Linked DNA regions of Homo sapiens: regions 2 and 3 are each linked to region 1. Evidence: fine-mapped expression QTL. A gene starts in region 1. Each other region holds a variant in brackets. All regions are shown on one strand. Distances are between the middles of the regions.

Region 1 (4,241 bases):
TTAAAGGGCACCTTCGGAACAAAGGTTTAACACCTGCCCGCTGCTAAGAACAATGGCTGCGAAAAGAACGAAGTCATCAGTCTTAAAATTACCGGGGGATTCCCTAATCCTTGTTGGAAGGGGAGGGGGCTAGACACAGGAAGAAATCCCCCCCGGGCAGCGGGACCCGGCCTCGCGCAGAGAGCTCCTGGAGCCTTCGGTGCACGCGTGTCCGTGGCCCCCGCGCAGTCCCGCCGCCCTCTCCTCCCCGGGCTCTCCCCGAAACGCCCCCACTGCCGCCCGCCCCATTGTCTGAAACGGTCTAAAAACTTCGCAACTTACCGAACCTGAGCAAATAAATAAATAAACCCATTTAATAAGGCCACGGTAATTATCCCGCGAATCTCCCTCTCCCAGACTCGAGGGCCTGGCGCCCTCCCGCTCCCTCGGGCCCCTTCCAAAGACAAAAAGCAACCCACTGGCCCTTTACCTTGCACACCAGCTCCTCTCCGCTGTGCAGATGCACGGCACGAAAAACGTGGTCTCCCTCCAGAGGTTCCAACAATAAGTATTTCCCGATACAAGAAACGCAATGCGACAAGTTCGGAGTCTCGGGCGGGCTCGGGGAGCCGAGGTTCGGGCTGAAACTCTGGCTGGGCTCCGCGGACCTTATAGACGACAACTCTTCGAAATCCTGGGTTTTGTTCCGCGATCTCCCATATCTCGCTATTGTGATGGGGGTAGACCTGTGTATGTTCATGAGTGTGAGGATCGCACACGACAAACAAAAAAAAACCCGCTGGAGAGATGAGTCGCTGGCGAGTGCGGCTGCAGGCGCCTCGGTGCCACTGATTTTAAAAGGGAGCGAGAGGGGAGGGGACAGAAGAGGGGCTGCGTGGAGAAAGAGTTAGAAGCCCCCAAATGGGCGCCGCCGGATACCTCGTCTGCTCCGAGCCCGGCTCCCGGGGGTCCTCGGTCGGCAGGCAACTCGGGTCTTTTTGTTACCCCAAAGCAGTCGGCGATGTGCAGAATCGCCGCACTTTTAGTTACTCTGTGTGTGTGTCCCCGGCGTGGATCTGGATGAGTACCCGGGCTGCTAAGGTGCGGAGCTGCAGCGCCAGGGCTCCCGACGCGACCCCCAGGCCGGCTTCCGAATCGCAGACGGGGCGGAGGAGCCCGCGGTAGTTTGTGCAGTCTTCGGGGAGCTCACGGCGGCGACTCAGTCCCAACGCGTTAGAAGCCAAACAAAAAGAGAAAGGAAACAAGCACGGGTCTACCGGCTGGCGACGCACGGCAGCCAGAATCCGCGCTGCACCCCCTTTTTTTGGTGGAAAGGGTGGGGGGCGTGTAAGGGGGGGGTGCGGGAGAGGGCAGTTACCTACGTTTTAACTGTAGATGGCGTCTGAGGCTTTTCCAAGATCGCGAGCTCTCCAAAAATTAAACAAACAAACAAAAAAAAGAAAAATTGCAAGGGAGCATTTAACTTGGTGCGGTCAGCGCTGCCAACAAAAGATTGCAAAAGCTGGGCACAGAGTTGCGGCGCGGGCTGGGCGCAGGTACCGCGACAAAGCCCTGGGCTCGGCCCGCCGCGCGGAGGTCAGCACAGGCTCATGCTGTCGCCGCTCGCTCGCGCCCCAGGTCTTCCTCCGAATGCAGCCAGACGTGCAGGAGAGAACGAGGACAGATCGGCGGTCTCCGATTTCGCCGGCACGAGCTTGCGGGGGTCCTGCGGGCGCTGCAAGGGGAGCTGCGTCCCTGGCCCTTCCAACGCGCGGCGTTCCTTTGCCCCTTTCCCGCTGGAGAACTGGATCTCGTCCTGGAATAATTTGCAATCACCCCGTCTCCCCCTACCCCGAGACCAAATTGCCCGGTGGGGTTTGTTTTGGAGAAAATTGACGGCTTGTCTCCTCCTTCTTTGATTTCTTGCTTGCCCCCCCCAGAGAAAAGAGGGGACCGTGTATTTAAAAATTAAAGGGGACGGCCGACGGTGCCCGAGGCCAATCCCCGCGCTCAGCACGCCCGCATCCCCCGGCGAGGCGGTATTAATAGTTACTTACGTGGCCGGGGATCTCGGAGCGAGCGGGGCCGTGAGTGCGCGTGTGCGCGCGCGCGCCTCGCTCGCGCTCGGTCTCCCCATTCAATGTCACCGACACATTTCCACGGAGCCTCCGCCCCCCCCCCGCCGCCCCCGCGACTGGCTCAGCCCAGAGCCGGCCCCGCCCCGCCCCCGCCCGGGCCCCCCTCATTGCGCCGGGCGCCCATCAATCAGCCCCGCCGCTGCCAGTCCTCGGGCGGCTCCCCGCGCCGCTGCCATTGCAGCTCCGTGCCGGGGGCGCCAGCACCGGCCTCGCAGCTCCCTCGCCCGGCCGGGGAGGTAAACAAAGTGAAATATCCTTCCGCGGCCCGGGGCCCCGGGCGCAGCACCCTGGGTGTCGGCTGCGAGCCGGCTGCGAGCCCAGCTGCGGGCGGCTGGGCCGGGGTTACCAGCAGCGACTCCCGAGCCGTTCCCCACACGCTGCTCCCGCAGCGCCCGCTCCAGCTCTTCGTAGCTCGTTCATGTTCCTGGCGCTTTTCCCCAGAAAGCCAGGCACGCTCTGAGCATTGGGCCCCCAGGCTCAGATGTGGCCCTGAATGAGGAGCTCTGTTTTGGAAGAATGCGCTTTCATCGGTATTGCTGCCTGGAGTTTCGAGAATTCGTTTCATGGTATCTCTCCGACATCCTCCTCTCCATTTAAAAGGAAATCCATTGCTTCCTTTTAGTTGGTGTCACCGCTTGCCCCCGATCCCCACATCCTGGGCTTGTATTTCTAGTGTTTTCAGCAGAAGAGGAACTGAAGGCATCTTTTGATTCAGGTCAAATTTAATCACTAATTCTTCCCTTCCCAGTGCATTGCCTGGAGGGCCTTGGAGGCCAAGCTAGACAAAACTTTGCACCCACACCTCCAGGGAGCGCTGTTGGGTCCTATCCAGGGTGCTGGGCGTCCTGAGTCCTCTTCTGTTAGCCAGGTGAAGGCTGCAGTTTCACGCCCCACTCCACCCCCCATTTCGCCACCCCCCCCGAATTATTCGTAACTTCCTTGGGAGATTCCAGTCCGCGGGCTTGGACAGGAACACCGGAAGCAAGGGGCTTGAACTCAGGCAGAGGCTTCAAACGCCAGCCTTGATCTAAGATATCCTGGTGAATGAGAAGCGATCTAGTAGAGGACAAACTTAAAAAAAAAAATCCCAAGGAACTGAGAAAGGGGAGTTGGGACGACTCCTGGAGCCCTCTGAGCTTTTGCATGCGTGTAGTATATTTTCCACTGGAGGAGGGGACTAAATTATTGTCCACTGTAGGACACTTTCAGTAAAAGAAGGGAGCTATTTATAATTATGTCCACTTGGGACAACAGTCACTCTAATGATCAGGAGTCCTGGGAATGTGGCCAGAGATGGAGAGGACATTGACTATAAAGCTTCCACCCAGCAGCACAGAGTTAAAAGGAAGGTTAAGAAGTGGACCCGTGCCTTCCAGCACCTCTCACCATCCTACTCCCCACAAACCTGCCTAGGATTCAGTCCCAGATCCCAGCAGAATAGATCTATTTCCCTAGGCGATCACCAGGACCACTGACCGAGCAGGGTCCCCTAATCCAGTCTTACCCCAGGAAGACACTTGGCCTGTGTTAGGAACAGTCTCGAAGCAACCCCTGCTGTTGAGTCAGAAAGAGAGGTGCCTAGCCTCCTCTATGCAGTGGCCAAGAGAGCTTTGTAATAATTAGGGGTTGGGACACCTGTGTGCTAGCCCTGGCTGGGTCTCTGATTTCAAATGGAAATTGGGTGAAGACCTTGTTTTTTCTCCCTAGATCCCTGTTTCTTCATCTGTAAGATGAGAAGCATAATACCCGCCCTGCTCACCTCATGTGGTTGCTTTAGAATTATATTTTCAATTCCAGGAAATCTATGAAGGCTTACTATAAGCCGGGCTCTGTGCTGAGTGTTAGGGATCCAATATGAGTAAGATCTGGTCTCTGCCACCCAAGAGCGCAGGGTCTAGCCCGGCAGAAAGACTGGGAAACAAATAATGTCATTGTGTAACAATGTGGCAATTAGAATATCAAGGCCTCAAGGGAGCATGGAGGAGGGAATGACTTTTCCTGAACGTCAGGGAGTTTTCCCAGAAAATGTGATTTTTATTACCTTGAACTAATCCAGAGCAAATATTTATTGAAACCTACTATGTGCCAGACACTGGATATGAAGATACAATGATTTGAAAAATA
Region 2 (4,233 bases), 25 kb before region 1:
TGCTAAGGACACAGAAGGGATGTCACTGAATAATAAGCACTTTGTGAATTTAGAAGACTGGTCCAAATGGCCAGGAAGCCTCTGCTTCAGCCACATCCTCTTGTAAACCACAAACTCCAGTCTTTGCAAGATCTTTTATGAACTCCATCCAGGGCTTGGCATTCATGGTGTTAACTGGGATAAGTCTCTAAATACTTCTCACACCATCCTCCCTGCATAGAGTGCTGCTGCTGTCTCTCTTATTATCTAAATTCTTTTCGTTCCGGACTCTGCTTCAGGTGCTACCCCTTCCAGGACACCTTCTGACGGACCTAGACAGGAGTTGTCCATCTGATGGGCTTCCATCAATCCTGCGTGTGTGTACCCCACCACTTGATTCTACTCATTGCATTTGTCTGTTTCCATGTCTCTTCCCAGCACACACTGAAATAACAGAGGTGCTTAGCAAACATTTCAGGAGAGAATTGAGCTTCTCTGGGCCGTAGTTATTTCTGTTAAGTAAGGTGCACTACGGATGCGACTGTCTATCGAGCCCCAGCAACCTTGATATTTGCGGATCTCAGACTCAAGTAAGGGCTGCTGGGCAGATGTTGTTGCTGGGAGTTGGGTGGTCTCCTAGGAGGGTTCCACTCAAGTTTGCAGCACAGGGCTTTTCCTGGGGAAACCATGTGTAGGCCTGGATTACTTGTGCCCTACGTAATCCTGGTTACTCTAGAGCTATTACTACACTCTCCCTGAGAACATCTGGACTCTTAACATTGTAGAAAGAGTAAACAAGCTTTGTGGCTAACCAGACATGGGGTCCAGTCTTGGGCCTAGCACTCACAAGTTTAACCCTGGACAAGGCATGCACATTTCTGGGTTTATTTCCTAATCTGTATTAGGAACGTAAGTTAGGTCACCTACAGTTGTTGTGACGATTAATTCAGTGTGAGCTATTGCATCCAGATTGGACAGCATATGCCCCAATACGATGAAAGGGAGATTCCATGTCTTAAAAGTAGTAGCAGTGGCTCACCCTGAAAGAGCAAATGCCTGTAAGATGTGAGCTTCTGCCCGGTGTGTGGTGACCACAAAGCACAGGTGGCAAAAAAATCATCATTTTCCAGACTCCAGCATTTTAGTTAAATACGCACAATTTTATTGATTGAAGAGATTAGGACAAAAACATTAAACCAAATACAGGACAAAGCACCAGAGGCCATAGATCCCCACCATGCATGTCACCAACCTCTCCTCCTCCAAGGTACTTAAAAAATAGGGGAGAGGGGAAAAAAAAGGTCCTTCTTGACACAGCACCATCTTCAGAATGTTAAAAAAAAAAAAAACCTTCTCTCCTTTCTATCTTCCATTAGCAAAATAGAATCAAGGGCAAATCCATGGCCGCCTTGTCTCCTGGTTACGAAGGGTGAAGCCGCCCTCCTGGGAACGTGAGGACAGGGCTCCTGCTGCGCAGGCATAAAGCATCCAAGAGTCTGCACATACATGCCACACACTATTATGAAGCACAGATTCAAGTAACATTTACATACTAGAGTCCACGTGTCACCTACCCAAAAACAGGACCATTTCACAAAACATATACAGGCAGTCAAATCCGAACAAGTGAGGTACTGGGAACACAAATATTTATGCCAAAAGAGTTCTGTATCATACAGCAATAGAAAAGCCGTAATAAAAAACATTTTGCCACTCGAAATCAAATAAAGCTATCTAGAAAAGCCAAGTAAAAGGTTATTTCAGAGACAGAAATACTCAAACAAGGAAAAAGAATTATAAATGTTAACTACAGCATGTAATATGTCATCCCAAGTCAACCCGTAATTGAAGTACTGGCTTAATACATCACAATGTGACATTTTCCTTAATAAATAGAAGAGTTCTTGAAAATACAAAGGTGCGTATTGGGATAGAGAGCTGTTTTTATTTATATCATCATAGCTTTCAGCTAATTATCCTTCCCGCTTGTCTCTACTGAGGGTTTTTGTCCAAACCAGAGGGCCTTACAAGCCTTAAAAGGATCATTCTCTGTAAAGAAAACTAAATAGCTGCCCTGTATTTTATACATGTGGGACAACCTGCTTTGTTTCACTAGTTTCTAATAAAACAAAGACAAATGTTTAGTTGCGATCAGAGTACTGCAAAAGCATCAGACTCCAGGAGCTTGCTAAAATCTCAGGCCATTGCTATCATCTCAGCAAAGAGGAATGCCTGTCACACAAACCCTCATTGTTCAAAAGCAAAACATGAAAAAGGAGTTGGATTTCTCTTTTCCTTTCTTCTTCCCTTTTCTTTCCCCCTTTAAACTAAGATAGCAGTAATGCATCTGGACGTTTGACTTCTAATAGCTTCCTGCCACGAACCAATTGACACAAAACAGAATAGCTTGTTAAAGGACAGATTTTTTCCCCCTTCAGGGAGCAAAGCATTAACATGTCATTTCCTGACCAGG[A/C]TATTAAATAGTTTATTTAGAAGAAATGAGTTGAAGTGAGCGATTAAGAGACACAAACTGGACTTTTGTTTTCTTTTACTGTAGCACCCAGGTTTCATGTCAGTCTGTGTGCACCGAATTTTTTTTTTAAGTGAACCTCATTAATTACCAGCTAGGTGGTTGGCTTGTTTAAAAGAAAAAAAATTCTTGGCCAACTGTTCCTTCCCTGAATCCTAACAAGAAGTTAAATGCTAACAGTGCGATGCCAGGATGTGTGTTTGAGGCAGAGAGTTTTGATTCTGTCAGGATCTGCAACTATTTTGGAACAAAATGAAAAGTGGGGTAGGCGGAAGTGGCCCAAGTGGCAAGGGGTGGTCTCCCAGGCTATGTTAGGGAAGACAAGCTCCAGCGGGCTCCCATCCATCTCACCCCAATCCCCATCCCACGCCTCTTGCCCCCATGCTACGTGGTCAGTCAGCTCCTTGAAGGTTTTCCTGCTCTGAACCAAGAAACTTAAGAGTGTGTCTTTCTTGCTACTCAGCCAGGCAATTCGTGTCCCCCGGAAGAACTCCTTTCCGCTGCCCTCGCTCACTCCTGGAACCTGCTAAGTCTCCGTGGGGCATGAGCTCAGTTAAAGAAAGGGTCCAAGTTCTCTTCCATGTTGACGTCCGGCACCAGCTGGTCAGACACTTCCTTAGCACCATATGCTGAATTCGAGACGCTAAAATCTGTAGAAAACCAAGGATGGTCCAGAATTTCCTGCGAGGTCAGCCGCTCTGAGGGCTCCCGACGCAGAATGCTTCGGATGAGGCACTTGGCCTTGGGCGACAGAGTCTCTGGAATGTTGAACTGGCCACGCCGGATCTTGCTGAAGAGGGAGCTGGGTTCAATGTCATGGAAAGGGTACCGCCCCACCAACATGGTGTACAGCATCACCCCCAGGCTCCACACGTCGGCTGCTTTGCCCGAGTAGCTGCCACTGGTGTTCAAGATCTCTGGGCTTACGTAAGCCGGGCAGCCATGCTTGTCGGAGAGGGAATCATCATCTCCCCGCAGAATGTAGGCGTCTTCCAGGCTTTCCAGCTTGACCCGAGTCCTGCAAGAAAGGAGGAAAACATAAGCTCCTGAGGGTGCTCAGAGACACGTTACCACCAGCATCATAACATAACCGACTATAGTGTTTCTGAAGACTCCTCATTCACATTCATTCATTCACGCATTCATCTGACCAGCCAAACATTACTCACTGAGCACCTTCTAGCTGCCAGCTACTATTCCAGGGCTGAGGACACCCACATGGGTGAACAAGACTGACAAGGTCTTTTCATGCAGCTGATAATCCACTGGGGAGCTCAAACCTTGAGCACCTTAGCGAACCATGAATCACATCATCATCACCCCTGCGATGAGGGAACAAGAGATTAACTAGCTTTCTCAAAGTCACATTTGCATAATGATAGGGCACCACAGAATTCAAACCGAGACCTAACCAACCAGGAAGCCCACAGCTTTGTCTACAACTTTTGGCAGACGTGTAACTAACATGACAGACCACAGTCCACAAAGACCTTTCACCTTACTTGCATTTTGGCCTCACTACAGCCCTTTGTATTAGACACGTAGGATATTAACATCCCATTTTACAGATGAGAATATCGAGACTCAGAGAGTTCGGGTAACTTCCCCAAACCTGTTAGCTGGGAAATGGAGAAGACTTGATCCCACATCTTCCTAAGTTGATGCTGCTGCTCTTTCTGCTATACCAGGTGCCTCTCTTTAGGACCAGGCAGGAAGCAGGGAAT
Region 3 (4,241 bases), 440 kb after region 1:
TCTTTTCACTTTCTTGATAATGTATTTGGAGGCACAAATATTTTTAATTTTTATTAATCCAATTTGTCTTTTTCTTTTGTTGCTTAAGCTTTTGATGCCAAATCTAAGAATCCATTGCCAAACAAGAAGCCATGAACATTTATCCCTGTGTTATTTGTACCAGCTTTGTTGTTTTAGCTCTTATACTTAGGTCATTGATTAATTTTGAGTTAATTTTTATATTTGGAGTGAAGAAAGGAGTCCAAATTTCTTCTTTTGCATATGGTTTTTTAGTTATCCTAGCACCAATTATTTAAGAGTCTATTCTTTCCTTGTTGAAGGGTCTTGGCAACGTTGCTGAAAATCAATTGGCCATAGATGTTTGGGTTTGTTTCTGGATTCTCATTCTGTTACATTGGCCTATATGCCTATACTTATGGCTGTGCTATGCTGTGTTGATTACCACAGCTTTGTGGTAAGTTTTGAAACTGAAAATTTGTGAGGCCTCCAATTTTGTTTTTATTTTGTTTTAATATTGTTTTGGCTATTTGGAGCACCTTGAAATTCCATATGAATTTGAGAATTAGCTTTGTCATTTCAGGGGAAAAAAGGCCATTGATGGGGATTATATTGATTCTGTAGATCTTTTTTAGGGAGTAGTTTCTTTACAATATTAAGTGCTCTAATTCATAAATATAGATTATCTTTTTACTTATTTCCTCTTTAATTTATTTCAGAAATGTTTTATAGTTTTCAGTGTACAAGTCTTTCACTTCTCTAAAATTTATTTCTGGGTATTTTATTCTTTCAATATTAGTGTAAATAATTTTTTTCTTAATTTCCTTTTTGAATTGTTCATTGTTGGCAAATAGAAATGCAAATGATTTTGGTGTGTTGACCTTATACCCTGAAACTTTGCTAAACTTAGTTCTAGTAGGTTTGTGTGTGTGTGTGCGTGTGTGTGCATATTCTTTGGGATTTTCTTATAGAGAACGTGTCATCTGCAAATAGAGATCATTTTACTTCCTTTCCAAATTGGATTATTTTTGTTTCTCTTTCCTTTTCTTGCCTAATTTTTCTGGCTAGGACTAGCAGTATAATGCTGAATAGCAGGGCTAGGCAGTACTTCCTAATGAAGAGTTTTAGGGGATTTCAAACTCATTTTTAAAATAGATAAAAAATGTCACATCTTCAGATGAGTTTGCAGTAACAATTGATTGACATCAGGAAAGGCTGACATTTATAAGCCAAATTCAAAAGCAAAAAATGGAAAAAGAAAATTTTACATAATTGGTAATTGGGACTAAAATACGTGCATCAATATTTAAAGAAAAGCCAAGGATGCATTTCTTCCATTTTGATTTATGTGTTCCTATAAAGAAAACTTTTCAGCTACAATATTTTTTTAAAAACTATTAAATAACATGAAATTAAAATCAGATTCTCAATCACTAAGTGCAAATAATTAAAATAATGCTTGAGAAATAAGCATAGTCAATCATATTGTTCTCAATAAAAATGGTATTAATAAAAAAATTTTAATCAAAATATTCTATTGAGTTGAAAAAACAAATCATTTTACTGTTATGTATCTTACTTTTTAAAAGTATATTTACAAAATGCAATAAAATTATTTATAATAAATAGTATATTGGGCTGTATGTTCAAATATTTTTCCTAATAGTGTTGAGTGATCAAAAGGCTTTAGGGACTATTGCCAGAGACATGTATGTGTATGATTTATCTGTAATACTAGGCCATTAACTCAAAGAAATCAGTATTCATTTCTGATTCTTTTCTAACCCCCACAGCACATGG[C/T]ACAATACCTTGCACATGGCAAATGATCAGTAATTACTTGTTGAACAAATCAAAGAATAAATTCACAAGACTGTGTAGTTACTTATCTGGAAGTAATGGTTGACCACCCATCTGCCAATTCTTAGTGAAGGAATTGTTTTCCTGCTTACTACACTGATTTTATTGTAACTCATTCAAGTCAGTCAAAATACATAACTTCCCTTCCAACTTCTCTACTCCAGGCCATCCTGTCAACATGTCTGCATTATTCTGTCTACCTAGTAGGTATTTACTAAATATATGCTAACTTAATTGCACTTTTATAATGAGACAGATGTAAATATTTCCATAAAAAACAAAGACCGTTAAAAATTAAATGATACAACAAGAAAAAAATAAATGCTTAAAATAATGCAATGAAAGTATTATTTTCTGTCTTTCAGTTTAAAAGCTTTTCAGCGACTCTTTTAACTTTAATCTTTGAGTGTTGGAGAAGAGACATGAGTGTGTGCTGGAAAATAGCTCTTCTAGAGCATTGTTCAGGCAATGGGTTCTTGTTGGAGGGAAGGGAAGATTTTTTTATTTTCAGTGCAAATATGTAAGCAACTCAAGATGACATCTTCCTAGGTCCTGTGCTCATGTCTGGTTCTTAAGGAGAGCAAGATACAACAAAGAATTTTCACAAAAATTACATATTTCTATTGCTGAAGTCCTGGTAAAGGGAATTTCTATTTTCAGCAATGCTGGTATAGGTGATCTGAACTCACTCCTCCACCCAGGACAATGTGCAAATTAGAAACCATCCTTAGGAACATAAAGCCACTCCAAAATGATTAGAGATATAATTGACATAATGAAAAGACCAATATAATAAAGATGGAAAGAATTGCTACTTACCAAAATCAGCTACAAATTTGATTCCATACCAGCAAAAACTCCCATTAGTTCACTTTTTAGTTGAAAAACATCCTCAAATCATTTTTCAGATGATCTGTACTAATACATAAAGCTGAATAGGTCACTGCCTTGTTTAATACCTTTTACTGCCTCCCCATTTCCCTCAAGATAAAATACAAACTCCTTAAAAGAGTTTCCTGGCCTGGCTCCTGCCTCCTTCTTCAGTCTGGGCTCACCTTCCTATCACCAGGAAGTGGCACCTCTAGGTGTTTGAAGAAGTGGTTTCTTCTTTCTGGAGGATTTCTATTTTCCCTAACTTCCTTGGCAGATACCTCCTAACTGATATCTCAGAACTCAGCTTATGTGTCACCTCCACACCAGCCGGCCGGTTTTGGGAGCCTGTCCTCTAGATTCTCATGGTTCCTGGACCTAATTCTACCATGGCATGTACTTCCTCTGTGTGCTGCCAACACTGGTGACTGCCCCATCTCCAACATTTGACAGTGGGCTCTCTGCATTTTCTCAGCTGGCATGGTGCCGTCACATAAGATGCTAAATAATTACTGAAAGGGTCAATGAATGAACAAGTGAATGAATTGAAGCAGCAAAAATACATTGATTTGTTTTTGTCTCCAAAGACAAGAGCCCACTTGCTGCCGATATGAAGAGAGTGATTTTCTGCTGCTGGGTAAATAGTTTCACCTCCCATTTTAAGTTTTAGTTGGCTAAATGCATACCTAGACATCTATATTCCATCTATTCATCCAATCAACAAATATTTATTTGTTACTTGCTATGTTCCACATGTGGTATTAGATCGAACCGTAATTGTTCGATCATTATGTTCGAAATTGTTGACATTAGATGGTTTAAAACATTTTCATATGGTACAACCTCCTGTAACCACTGTAGGGGAAAAGTACCTCTCTGGTCTCATGCTCATGGAAATCAGGGTGTGTGACAGACAATTCTCATACAATGTAGTAAGTACAGGTACTCCTAAAATGATTCTCTTTTGGAAGTTATATCAAATAAAATGCTGATAGCTCTTTGAATCGGGAAAACATTGACCTCATAGACATTTGTAATCAATTAGTTCACAAATGTTGGTTATTGGAGAGTCAACGTTTTCCAAGGCAGAAAATGGAAAATAGCATTATCTGTAGACCAATGGAGAAAATATCTGCCCAGGCTTGCCTGCTGAAAAATAGCATGGTAGTATATTTGAAAACCAAAAGACCCTAAGTACAATATGTTATAGAAGACGTAATGAGCACTGACAATATGACAGAATTTTATGTTGACTTAAAGCAGCCCCAGTCCCTGCCTAACGAATCTGCAGTCCAAGTTCTGTGGACAATCCTGAGAGAAGATAAAAATACACTAGAGGAAAGATGAATGCCTGCAATGAAGCGATCCCAAATGGCTCCTATCACAAATGGGGTTCCAGGAACCTCAGCGCTGCTTTCTGTATAAAGGCAGCACAGATGAACTTTAAAAAGGTGTTTTTCTTGTTAAAATTATACCATAATAGCGCCGTGGATTTCCTTTCAGCCCACTACCTCATG

Alleles and levels. Positions count from the first base shown, and alleles are read on the strand shown. Sizes are in standard deviations (SD) of each study's normalised expression. Not every link is listed here.
For the expression in follicular helper T cells of the gene that starts at base 2,111 in region 1, C is the high allele of the variant in region 2 and A is the other (large effect, 1.3 SD a copy in Schmiedel 2018).

Evidence for each region. PIP is the estimated chance that this variant, and not a neighbour inherited with it, causes the effect. A credible set is the group of variants that fine-mapping cannot tell apart.
Region 2: its variant is the best candidate, but not a certain one, in a credible set for the expression of TRIB2 in follicular helper T cells (Schmiedel 2018, PIP 0.50).
Region 3: its variant is the best candidate, but not a certain one, in a credible set for the expression of TRIB2 in whole blood (TOPMed, PIP 0.58).

The regions. Positions count from the first base shown.
Region 1 is chr2:12,714,806-12,719,046 of GRCh38, reverse strand. It overlaps TRIB2 (tribbles pseudokinase 2), which reads right to left and starts at 2,111. Exons shown (of 3, transcript NM_021643.4): 1 at 470-2,111. The coding sequence starts at 739. LOC124905974 (a long non-coding RNA gene) reads left to right here and starts at 2,289. Exons shown (of 2, transcript XR_007086222.1): 1 at 2,289-4,241. RefSeq lists enhancers at 1-282, 1,644-1,713, 1,562-2,201 and silencers at 2,154-2,213, 2,304-2,523.
Region 2 is chr2:12,739,620-12,743,852 of GRCh38, reverse strand. It overlaps TRIB2 (tribbles pseudokinase 2), which reads right to left. Exons shown (of 3, transcript NM_021643.4): 3 at 1,119-3,527. The coding sequence ends at 3,059. Among named protein-coding and RNA genes, the nearest start is that of MIR3125, 4.4 kb to the right of the region's middle. The variant A/C (reference allele first, on the strand shown) is at 2,453.
Region 3 is chr2:12,279,769-12,284,009 of GRCh38, reverse strand. The region is part of intron 3 of MIR3681HG (MIR3681 host gene); the gene reads right to left. Among named protein-coding and RNA genes, the nearest start is that of MIR3681, 83 kb to the right of the region's middle. The variant C/T (reference allele first, on the strand shown) is at 1,798.